Linked DNA regions of Homo sapiens. The main gene of each other region encodes a partner of the protein of the gene in region 2 in a complex. Each region holds a gene or a part of one and is shown on either strand. Other genes may lie near its edges. The genes, in order: CASR, GNAI3 and RGS8.

Evidence for each region.
Region 1: the proteins of GNAI3 (region 2) and CASR are in contact, whole or in part, in a cryo-EM structure (PDB 8SZH), measured with the Homo sapiens proteins. Residues at the interface, in NP_006487.1 of Homo sapiens: Ala31, Lys32, Gln304, Glu308, Lys314, Asp315, Thr316, Lys317, Glu318, Ile319, Tyr320, Thr321, Phe334, Asp337, Ala338, Thr340, Asp341, Ile343, Ile344, Lys345, Asn347, Leu348, Glu350, Cys351, Gly352, Leu353, Tyr354; in NP_000379.3 of Homo sapiens: Lys644, Ala645, Asn647, Arg701, Val702, Val705, Phe706, Ala708, Lys709, Pro711, Thr712, Arg716, Trp719, Phe801, Ile869, Val872, Arg873, Thr876, Ala877, Ala880, Phe881, Lys882, Val883, Ala884, Ala885, Arg886.
Region 3: the proteins of GNAI3 (region 2) and RGS8 are in contact, whole or in part, in a crystal structure (PDB 2ODE), measured with the Homo sapiens proteins. Residues at the interface, in NP_006487.1 of Homo sapiens: Glu65, Gln68, Ser75, Val179, Lys180, Thr181, Thr182, Gly183, Ile184, Val185, Gln204, Ser206, Glu207, Lys209, Lys210, His213, Ala235, Glu236, Asp237, Glu238; in NP_001095920.1 of Homo sapiens: Thr76, Glu77, Phe78, Ser79, Glu81, Asn82, Ala117, Pro118, Glu120, Val121, Asn122, Ile123, Asp124, Phe125, Gln126, Arg128, Leu153, Lys156, Asp157, Ser158, Arg161, Arg164.

Annotation. Positions count from the first base shown.
Region 1 is NC_000003.12:122,182,137-122,185,736, forward strand, and holds the start of CASR (extracellular calcium-sensing receptor isoform 2 precursor), read left to right. Parts: upstream 1-1,531; 5' UTR 1,532-1,676; intron 1,677-2,190; exon of another isoform or gene 2,191-2,393; intron 2,394-3,600. UniProt on the Homo sapiens protein: G-protein-coupled receptor that senses changes in the extracellular concentration of calcium ions and plays a key role in maintaining calcium homeostasis.
Region 2 is NC_000001.11:109,551,584-109,555,407, reverse strand, and holds part of GNAI3 (guanine nucleotide-binding protein G(i) subunit alpha-3), read right to left. Parts: intron 1-3,824. UniProt on the Homo sapiens protein: Heterotrimeric guanine nucleotide-binding proteins (G proteins) function as transducers downstream of G protein-coupled receptors (GPCRs) in numerous signaling cascades.
Region 3 is NC_000001.11:182,677,934-182,681,757, forward strand, and holds part of RGS8 (regulator of G-protein signaling 8), read right to left. Parts: intron 1-3,824. UniProt on the Homo sapiens protein: Regulates G protein-coupled receptor signaling cascades, including signaling via muscarinic acetylcholine receptor CHRM2 and dopamine receptor DRD2.

The DNA.
Region 1 (3,600 bases), on a different chromosome or scaffold from region 2:
GTTACAGAGGGGTGCAAAGACAAATACTACAAAAATGATACTCCTTCCTTGACATAATCCATAGGAACAAAAGAAGTAAAAAGGGCATATCTTTTTTCACCTTGTGATCCACTGTTATCTAATTGTATTGTCTGTGTACCACCCAATACCATGCTTCCAATCTCTACTGGAAGATGTACACACTGGGACACACTGGTAAAGTGATCAAGCACCAGGACTGTAAGTCAAGCTGATCAGGTTCAGCTCTTGGCTCTGCCAACTCCTAGCCACCCAACCCTAAATACCTGAAACTGTATGCATCAGTTTCTTCGTCTTTAAAATGGAAGCAATAATAGATCTTCAGAGTAATACTTTCTTAAAGATAGTGCCCAAATTTGGACATTATGCCCAGGTGTAATCCGACCAGTGAAGAGCATCAGTTCAGCCTAAGATTGCAGCCTCATTCGGGTTTTGAACTGAACTCGTTCAGCCTTTGGGTGTTCACAAAGCTGTGCTTGTAGCCAACTAAAATAAAATCTAAGGTATTTTGATAGGCACCACTACTGAGCCACATCCTCCATTACTTACATTGCTGGGTGTTTCGGCCTGAGGGAGGACTTCACATTTATTCCTATTAACCAGATTTTGCCCCCTTCACTGGTGCTTTAGCATTTGCTCAGCTCCTTCTCCTACCCTGTATTTGAGGGAAAGGAAGCCAAATGGGCAGAACTTGGCCATAATGAGGATGTGTTTGACATGCTGGATTTGAGTCTGTGTTCCATTGAAGAAAAGAAATGGAAACTTTGTTGAGTATCCATTCTATACAGGGCACTTTCCTTGACTATTTCATTTAACACTCCAAGGACCCCCTGAGGTAGATGTTATCGCCATTTTGCAGAGAAGAAATCTGCATTTTTATTTGAAGTTCTTAAACATGGTAAACGACCCAATTTTCTGCTTTTTGCTTAACAGTATTTTGCAAACATTTTATCATGTTACTTCATGTTTTCCTATTTTTTTTTTGCTTTATAAATAAATACATACTCCCTCCTTATTCTAAAAAGAATTTGAAGCACTTCTGTCTTGATGTTTATCATTTTAATGGTTGTATAATGTCCCATTAAGTCACCCTAATTTATTCAACAAATTTCCTACTGTTGACAGTTTGGCTCTGTTTGCTTTTTGTGGTTTTTAAAATTATTTTCTGTAACAAATGATCCTGCTAAAAAAAAAATCTCCGCACGAATATTATTTTGTTCTGGAAATTTCCGCAAGGGTGGAATACTGCATTAAAGGGGATAATATTTTTGGTGTTTCTTTATAGAGCCTAGCAAATTGCCCACCCAAAGGAGTATGCTTTATTTGAGAGTAAAAAGCCAAAAACAAACAAACACATACAAAAAAACTGGTTTTCTACAAAAGAAATTAATTTTCCACTTATTCATAAAATATTCTAGTGCTGTGATGGGTGGCAGGCACCGTGCCAGGGGCTAGGGACAAGGATAAGCAAGGCCAGGTCCGGGCCTCCAAGCAGCGCGCTGTGGAGTCGGGTAGAGTAGACCAAGTGCAACAGGCACCTGGCTGCAGCCAGGAAGGACCGCACGCCCTTTCGCGCAGGAGAGTGGAAGGAGGGAGCTGTTTGCCAGCACCGAGGTCTTGCGGCACAGGCAACGCTTGACCTGAGTCTTGCAGAATGAGTAAGAGTTTGGGCACGCGATTTGTATTTATTTTACTGTGAATCTCTGGCCTTATATCAGAAAAAAAAAAATTGTGCCACCCTCGGCACAGAGAACGTTGGTGGCGTCGTAAGCGCCCTAAGCTTCTTTCCATCGCCAAGGAGTAGGGGTCAGGGAAGAGGACAGCGGGAACAGGATTTGAGAGCCGGGAACCCCTGGCTCGGCACGGGAGAGGGCAGGAGAGGACCTAAGCGCGGGGCTCGCCGTCTGCTGGGGACCCGAGCCGGCCTGTGGCCCTCGGGGAACCGAAGACGCGCCCTCAGCGACCCTGAAGAGTCAGCTAAGCTCTCTGCGGGCTAAGGAGACGGTGAAGGAACCGGGACTAACTGGGGTAGGGGTTAGAAGGCAGCCCGCGAGTGGGCTACGAGGGGAGCTGGGCTCGGCAGTTGGGGACCCCGAGGGGGCAAGCGGGCGGGGAGCAGGAGAGGGGCGGAGCTCCGGGGCCGGGGCCGGGGCCGCAGCGGCCGCCCAGAGGGTCTGCGGGGGCTGCTGTGGCCGGACCCGAAGGCGGGCGCCGGGAGCGCAGCGAGCCAGACGCGCCTCTCCAAGACCGTGACCTTGGCATAGGGAGCGGGGCTGCGCGCAGTCCTGAGATCAGACCAGAGCTCATCCTCGTGGAGACCCACGGCCGAGGGGCCGGAGCTGCCTCTGTGCGAGGGAGCCCTGGCCGCGGCGCAGGTAGGACCGGGGAACCCAAGGAGGGCGGGAGGAAAGCGCCCCTGGTGGGGGAGGGGCCGTGGCGGGGTCTGGGGGCCAAGGGCTCCGGGCCGAACGAGGGGCACACGCCGGAGCAGCTCCAGCCTGGGAGCATTGGGCGTGAACGTGGGGGAAAGTAGGGACCAGATTACAGGATCAAGGCTTTCCCCGGCTCAGAACTGGATTGTTCAGTGCCCCTAGAAGGGGCAGCGGGTCGCCCACGCGAATGAACGGGAGCGCGCACCAAAACGCCTGCTGTTGGTAGTTTCTTGTGCCTCTGCCTTGTTTCTGCCTGTGATATAGTCAGAAAGGACTCGCTTGCCACGTGTTAACAAGGGGACAGGTAGCTTTTACAGAGTGTATGAATATGGAGGGGAGGGCCACAGAGTCAGCTCTGGCCCCAGGGGCCGTCAGTGCCCCCACAGGATTCCTGGTCCAAGCTACCAGCTGTCTTGGGAACTTTGCTTCAGTGGCATCAAATTAGATTGTCAGTTCCCGGGGCCTGAGCACCAGCCTCCATGTGTATTTCCTGGGGAGAAAAAAAAAAGGCATACCAGACTGATGGAGTCTTATCATTATTTTAACATTATAGCTTTCAATAGATAACATGCATATGTTTCTTTTTTTAAGTCAAATAATACAAACATTTATCTTCTACAGGCAATGCGTGCACTAGCATGTGTGTCTATTGCTGTCTCCTTTCTACACCCATAGCCTTTCCCACTCTACGTGTTCTGTCGCCGTCTTTTGATTCTTTATCCAGAAAATGATGTCACCACCACTGCCCACATCCCTTAATCTCCAGTGTTCCTCCTTGCAACGCCTCTCTTGTCCTCAAATATTTTTCACAAGGTGGTCCTCAGGGTAGGGAGCCTACTAACGAGAAGACATTTCGTTTACTTGCTTCAATTATCCCAGAGATTTGAAGAAAAGGCACATTGGGGAAGAGTCCATGTCAAGTTCTAAACACACTTATCTTTCCCCTTAAACTGGATCTTCCAAGTGCAGTTTAGGTAGTCTGTTACTGAGAGAAATAATGCAGGCTGTTTTCTGAAATGCTCTGGATTTCCAGAACTTAACACCACAGTAGTTCCTATTCCTTAAAACAGAACTTCATCAGTCACACCTTGCTGTTGCTTTTCCCATCTCCACTCCAGGATTCCCTAACTGGCATGCCTAGGATTTTTCC
Region 2 (3,824 bases):
TGTCGAAGATTAGTTGACTGGAAGTTATTTGGCTTTATTTCTGGGCTCTCTATTCTGTTCCATTAGTCTATATGCCTGTTTTTACACCAGTACCATGATGTTTTGGTGATTATGGCCTTACAGTATAGTTCGAAGTCAGGTAATCTAATGCCTCTAGGTTTGTTCTTTTTGCTTAGTCTTGCTTTGGCTATACGGGCTCTTTTTTGGGTCCACATGAATTTTAGGATTGTTTTTTCTAGTTCTGTGAAGAATGATGGTGGTACTTTAATGGGAATTGCATTGAATTTGTAGATATGCTTTTGGCAGTATGGTCATTTTCACAATATTGATTCTACCCATCCATGAGCATGGGACGTGTTTCCATTTGTTTGTATCATCTATGATTTCTGTCAGCCGTGTTTTGTAGTTTTCCTTGTAGAGGTGTTTCACCTTCTTGGTCAAGTATATTCCTAAGTATTGTTTGTTTGTTTGTTTTTTGTTTGCAGCTACTGTAAAAGGTTGAGTTCTTGATTTGATTCTCAGCTTGGTTGCTGTTGGTGTATAGGGCTACTGACTTAAATCTAAGACCCAAAACCATAAAAATTCTAGAAGATAACATTGGAAAAACCCTTCTAGCCATTGGCTTAGGCAAAGACTTCACAACCAAGAACCCAAAAGCAAATGCAAAGACAAAAATAAAAATAAATAAATGGGACTCAACTAAACTAAAAAGCTTCTGAGCAACAAAAGAAATCAGCAGAGTACAGACAACCCAGAGTGGGAGAAAATCTTCACAATCTATACATCTGACAAAGGACTAATATCCAGAATCTACAAGGAAATCAAATCAGCACGAAAAAAACAATCCCATCAAAAAGTGGGCTAAGGACTTGAATAGACAATTCTCACAAGATATACAAATGGCCAGCAAACTTACGAAAACATGCTCAACATCACTAATTATCAGGAACTACAAATCAAAACTACAATGTGATACCACCTTACTCCTGCAATAATGGCCATAATAAAAAAAAAATAGATGTTGGTGTGGATGTGATGAAAAGGGAACACCTTCACGCTGTTGGTGGGAATGTAAACTAGTACAACCACTATGGGAAACAGTGTGTAGGTTCCTTAAAGAACTAAAAGTATATCTACCATTTGATGCACCAATCTCACTCCTGAGTATCTACCCTGAGGAAAGAAGCCATTATACAAAAAAGATACTTGCATACGCATGTTTATAGCAGCACAATTCACAATGGCAAAAATATGGAACCAGCCCAAATGCCCATCAATCAACGAGTGGATAAAGAAAATGTGATATACACACACACACACACACACACCCCTCTACACCCATGGAACACTACTCAGCCATAAAAAGGAATGAAATAATGGCATCTGCAGCAACCTGGATGGAACTGGAGACGATTACTCTAAGTGAAGTAACTCAGGAATGGAAAACCAAACATCGTACGTTCTCACTTGTAAGTGGATGCTAAGCTATGAGGATGCAAAGGCCTAAGAATGATACAACGGACTTTGGGGACTCGGGGGAAAGGGTGGGAAGGTGGTGAGGGATAAAGGACTATACATTGGGTACAGTGTAGACTGCTCAGGTGATGGGTGCACCAAAATCTCAGAAATTGCCACTAAACTTATTCACGTAACCAAACATAACCTGTTCCCCAAAAACCTATTGAAATGTTAAAAAAGTGACTAATGCATTTAAATAAAAGACACAAAGAATGATACATGCTTATAAAACACAAAGCTTTTTTTCCCCGAAACACAGATGCATCCTCACATGAAATGTAACTGGCCATGAACCTTATCCCAAGCAAATGGCAAACATAATAAAGGGTATAATCCCATAGGAGGATATAATGTAATGGCATGTTTACCAAAGGGCAGTCTTATTCTCAATAATAAGCATATTCAGCCAATAATATGCAGCAATTTAAATATAATTAACTGTATAATATAGAGTTTAAGTAAATTAGATGATTCCAGTTCTCTGCATGCAACTGGCTTTTTGCCATACTACCACCAGCAAATCCCAAAGAACAAAGTTTTTTTTTATGTTTTCTCAGAACCTGCTAAAGGAAACTATCAAGAAACAGAAATACAGAGAGCAGATAATTCAATAATTTACAAAACTAAGTATCTTCATTAGTACAGTGATGAGTAAAAAAAAAGGACTAACATTTAATTCCTTTCACCACAAAAGGATATTAAAATTCTTTGAAGATCTTTGAAAATAGTATATTAATATGAAAAATAATAAAACAGCTGTCTGAAAAACCTCTGAAAAAAGTAGCTAAAATGGTAATTCTCACGATCATCATCATCAATAGAAGTGACCACTTACTATTTTTTATTTGCTAGGCACTAATGTGAAGCATTTTACATGCATTATCTCATTTCATATTATGAAACATCATCTCTGCTTTACATATGTAAAAATTATTATTCTTATGGTTAAGTTACTTGCTCTGGGTCTCAGAGCTAATAAGTGGAGGTAGAACTTAAATTCAGTTTTGTGTGAATCCAAAAGCAGTGCTCTTATCCATTATACCAGTGCTTCCCAACCTTTGTCACATGATGGCACACATTAAAAATATTTGTAAGGCTCATTGGGGTGAGCTGAAAGAGCTTGGTGAAAAAAAATTTTCTTGCTTGCCCTGGGGTCAAAAAAAAACAAAAACAAAACCCGCACACACAAAATTTCTTATTATGAAATTATGGCATGAAAAAAATACAAAGTATTACAAATGATATTAAATATTAAATTGGTATAAATTTAGTATTTATACCAAATAAAATTTTTTCAAATTACCAAATTCATGGTAGGGTAGGCACAGTGGCTCACACTGGTAATCCCAGCACTTTGGGAGGCTGAGATGGGAGAATCACATGAGGCCAAGCATTTGAGACCAGCCTGGGCAACATAATGAGACCCCCATCTCTAATTGTTTAAATAGTAAATAACCAAATTACCAAATTCATGAATTATACAAGAGGAAATCATACCAAAGATGTTCAAATGTAATTTCAACTGTTGTAAAAGTTTGAACTTATAAAAATGATTTAAAATTTCAATGCTATAAAAAATTTGTAAACAGCACACCTATATGCCATCCTAAGCACTGGAACATTGGTTGGGAAGCTTTGCATGGTATTTTTTCAATAGAATGTCATAATTAAACACTAATTTGATATACCAAGATCTTCCCAAGAACACTTTATTTTTTTTTTTTTTGAGACAAAGAGTCTCACTTTGTCACCCAGGCTAGAGTGCAGTGGCGTCATCTCTGCTCACTGCAACCTCCACCTCCCGGGTTCAAGCGATTCTCCTGCCTCAGCCTCCCAAGTAGCTGGGACTACAGGTGCACACCACCACGCCCGGCTAATTTTTGTACTTTTAGTAGAGATGGGGTTTCGCCATGTTGGCCAGGCTGGTCTCGAACTCCTGACCTCAGGTGATCCACCAGCCTCGGCCTCCCAAAGTGATGGGATTACAGCCAGGAGCCACCACGCCCAGCCCTTTCCAAGAACATCTAAATGAAATTCAAACCAAAGGTTATCAAAGGAAGAATTACAATACTGAAGTGTCTGTAAATAATCTGGCCCACACTAGCTGCTTAATTTGGTATAATTTCCATAATACCTACAATCTGTAACATTCATTTTGACTTAATAAGAATAGCTAATCTTCATGGAGCTAGTACTATGTGCCAAGCTGTGTTCTGCTTTACATTATTACCATATTTAATCCTCACAGCAATCCTAGGAGTAGCTCTATTTTCTCCATTTTAAAGATAAGAAAACTGAGGCCAAGA
Region 3 (3,824 bases), about 73 Mb from region 2:
GGTTAAAAATAAAGCTGAAGAAACACCTCAGCCAAATGTAATACATGGACTTTGTGTTGAATCCTGATTCAAATGTAAAATTTTAAAAATAATACAGTGCAATTGAGAAAATCTAAACACTGATTAGATATTTAATAGTATTAAGACATTATCGTTATTTTTTAGTGCAATTTTGATATTGAGGCTTTTTTAAGAGACCTTATCTTTTAGAGGTATACTCTGAAATATTTATAGTTGAAATGATATGCTATCATGAACAGCTTCAACATCATCTTGGGTGGGAAGCTGGGTGGTAGGTACGTAGGGACTCATTGTTCTGTTCTCTTGACTTGTGTATATTTGAAATTGTGCCTACAATGTGTGGCTTCAGTAAAATAAGCCAACAAAGTACAAGAAAACTGAAATACAGAAGGAGGAGACTATTTGAATGGAACTTGATTTTCTGTACATTTTCCATTGTAAGTTTTTCTCCCCTTGAATAAATCCATTTTAAGAAAAGTCTATTATTTTATGCCTAGGGAGCAGGTGCTAAAATTCACAGAGGTTTAGAGTGGGTATAACTCCTAGACATCACCTACAGAAACTAAACTTTGAAGACTTTGTCCAATGTCACATTTCTTAGAGGCATAGCCAGGACTCCAACTCAGAGTTCCTGGATGGAATCCAGCCACATCCTTTGTTCCCACTGCTGAGCTGCCCATCTATACAGGCAGAATTCAGGGCCATATGTTAACACTGGACAAGGAGAGAAATGATGGCCTGTTTGCTCACCTCCACAGCCCTTCTCTGTTCCTACTATGATCACAGCCTTAAACACTGAACTCAGGTTTTACAAATGACCTTTCCAGTGGCCAACTAGTTTCTGTGAGGGCAGCTGAAGGGCAGGAAGGTAGAGTGGAGAGAGAGAGCTTATGCAACATACACAACTCTTCACACCCTCACAACCTGATCTCCTGTCCCATCAAGATCATCAAGGCCTCAGGTATGAAATACCTGGACCTCTTTTCACTTACTAACAACTCCTACTAATCTATCCATATTACACACACCCTGACCTCCTTCCAGCTGCCCTCAGATGTGTCTATTTAAGGTGAATTCTTCCTCCTGTGGCCTTCCACCTATTCTTTCCCATGGACCCTCCTTTATGAACTCTATCTTTATTTTCTCTTTCTCACATGTTATTCTGCACTTAACAAAAACAATGTTCATCTCTTTTATTTAAAAAAATTCCCCTTGGGAAACACCCTTGGGTGTTTCTCCTTTTATCAGCAAAACTGCTTGAAAGAGTCTCCTCTGCTTCCTCACTTCCTATCCCCTCCTAACCCCTTTGCCATTTGGCTTCCATTCCCACCATTCCCCCGAAACACAGCCTCCATACTGTGAGGTTCAAGTGGAAATGTTCCAGTACTTGTCTTTATGAACCTCTTTGCTGCCTTTGCCATGGTGACCATTCATTTCTTGGATCTCTCTCTTTTGACTTCCCAACATTACACTCCCCTGGCTGCCCTTCCCCTTGGTCTCCTTTGCTGGCTCCTCCTCCTCTGTCCACCCCATAAACACTGGTATTTTCCTTCCTCTCTAATCTTAGCTTCCTGCCTCTCTCACCTTGCATGCTACTTGGGCAATCTCATCCTTGCCCATAGTCCTAACTACATTGGGTATATTGACCATTTCTAAATATTTTTGTCCAACTCTAGCCCCTCTCCCATCATGTAGACACCAATAGCTCCCAATCATGTAGACTCCGATAGTCCTTGGGTTGCTGAACATACCCCTCAGATATCCTACAGGCCTAACAACTGCAAATATATCTAAATAATGGACACATCATATTCCCATCTTTTCTTGGCCCATTTTATCCGCCGCCCTCACCACGCCCACCTCCCACTCCACCCGCACCCCCTACACACACATATAAACCTTGGCTTCCTCTGGAATTGCTGATCTCAGTTTCTGGCACCACCATCTACTGAGTAACTCAAGCCAGAAATAGGAAAGTAATTACAGGCAACTCCCTTTCTCTCATCTCCTGTCGACAACCAATTACCAAATCATACTGATTAAATCTTTCATAGTTTTCAAATCTGTCTCCTCCCCTCCATCCTCGCTACCACTGCTCTGGCTCATGTCCTTACGGTCCTGGTTCACGTCCTCACAGTCTCTGGTCCCCATGAGACAGCCTATTTTCTTAAATTCAGCTCCAATCTGCAGCCATAATCACCTGGTTAGTCACAAACATGACTGCATTTCCTTCTCCTCAAAACCTTTAAGCCCTCCTACTCTAGGGATAAAGTTCCAGCTTAAGAAGGATCCTGATACACAAACACCCCAAGGTCTGGCTACCTTGAGAGTCACCTACCACTTCCCTGGCTTGTCCTTCAGGCCCCAATAACTCTACACTTTCCATAATCATGAGCACATATCACAGGGTTCCATGGCTTTGGGCCTCCTTTATTTCATTTCCTCTGCCCAGAATGTCCTTGATCTGAGTGAGTCCTGCTCATCCTCAAGCTGCACTTCAGGACGACTTCTCCAAAAGCCTCACCTGAACACCCAAGTTCAGGAAATGCCCTCTGTGCTCCTATGGCTTCCAGGCACACTTCTCTATGTCAGCACCTGGCATAGCTAGGTACCTGCAACTCTCTTCTCCTAACCAGATCCTAAGTTCATCAAGGGCAGAAAGCATGGGTTCATTCATTCATTCATTCATCTGACTAACATTTAAGTGTCTCCTATGTGCCAAGCAAGGTCCCAGGCATGGGTACATTACATTCCCTATGTACATTGCCTAGGTAAAAAACGTATTTTTCATCTCTACACCTCCAAAATGTAGCACGGTCCCCGGCAACAGGAAAAGGCTCAGTTAATGTATGTTGAGCTGACACGAGCCCCCCAGCAGGTAGGTGAGGAAACTGTGTTTGGTGTAGGATGCTGGCCAACAGAGACAGTGTGGAGTCACAGAGTGGCACAGGCTCCAGGGTCAGCAACAAGGGTTCAAGCTCCAACTCTGCCCCTTTATGGCAGGCTCTCCTTGGCTTAGGACCTTGCCTTCTCATCTCTGAAATCAGAATTACTAAGGCAATGCCCACTTCCTGTGTTACTGCAAGAATTCAGTGAAATATATAAGTAAACATGGGCTGTAAATCACTTAGGCTTATGAAAACATTGAGTCACAGGGAGAACATCAGAGTCCGAGAAGGCAGAAGCCCCACACCCAGTGGGGAGAGGTGTGGAGGCTGCATGGATGGGACAGGAGGGCCAAAGGTGGAGAAGCAGAGGGATGTAGTTTTCAAAGCCATGGAGCTGAGAGGCAAGCATGAAACCCTGTCACAACTGAAATGTGGCTTTCCCTCCTATCGCTCAGTGCCAGGGTGCTGGTTATCAATCTCTTCCCCTTCTCAGATAGTAACAAAAGCTTTACCATTTGCCATCAGAGTCTACAGCTGTGGGCAGAGAGCAGCTTCAGCACTCTCCCCCTTCTCTGAATATAAAATAAGCTCTTTCTAATCCTCCATTTTTAATGACTTCAGGCAATGGCTTTCATGTCCTCACTCCTAGCTCCATTCTAGCCAGACACCTAGAATCACGCAGCAAGGAGAATCCACAGCCATCAGACCCAGGAGTGGGGTTCGGCCACAGCAACAGCAGCAGGGAATAGTGGAGTGGAGTCTGGGACTCTGGGGACAGTTCTCCCACTGGTATTTGCTCCGAAATTCACACAGAACTGGGAACTGAGAGCACTCAGTGAGACGCCTTGCTTGCGGGCATGTGCTGGTGCACGTTAATGTCTGAGCTGGAGGCGGGAGGAGGGACGAGGGCTGTGT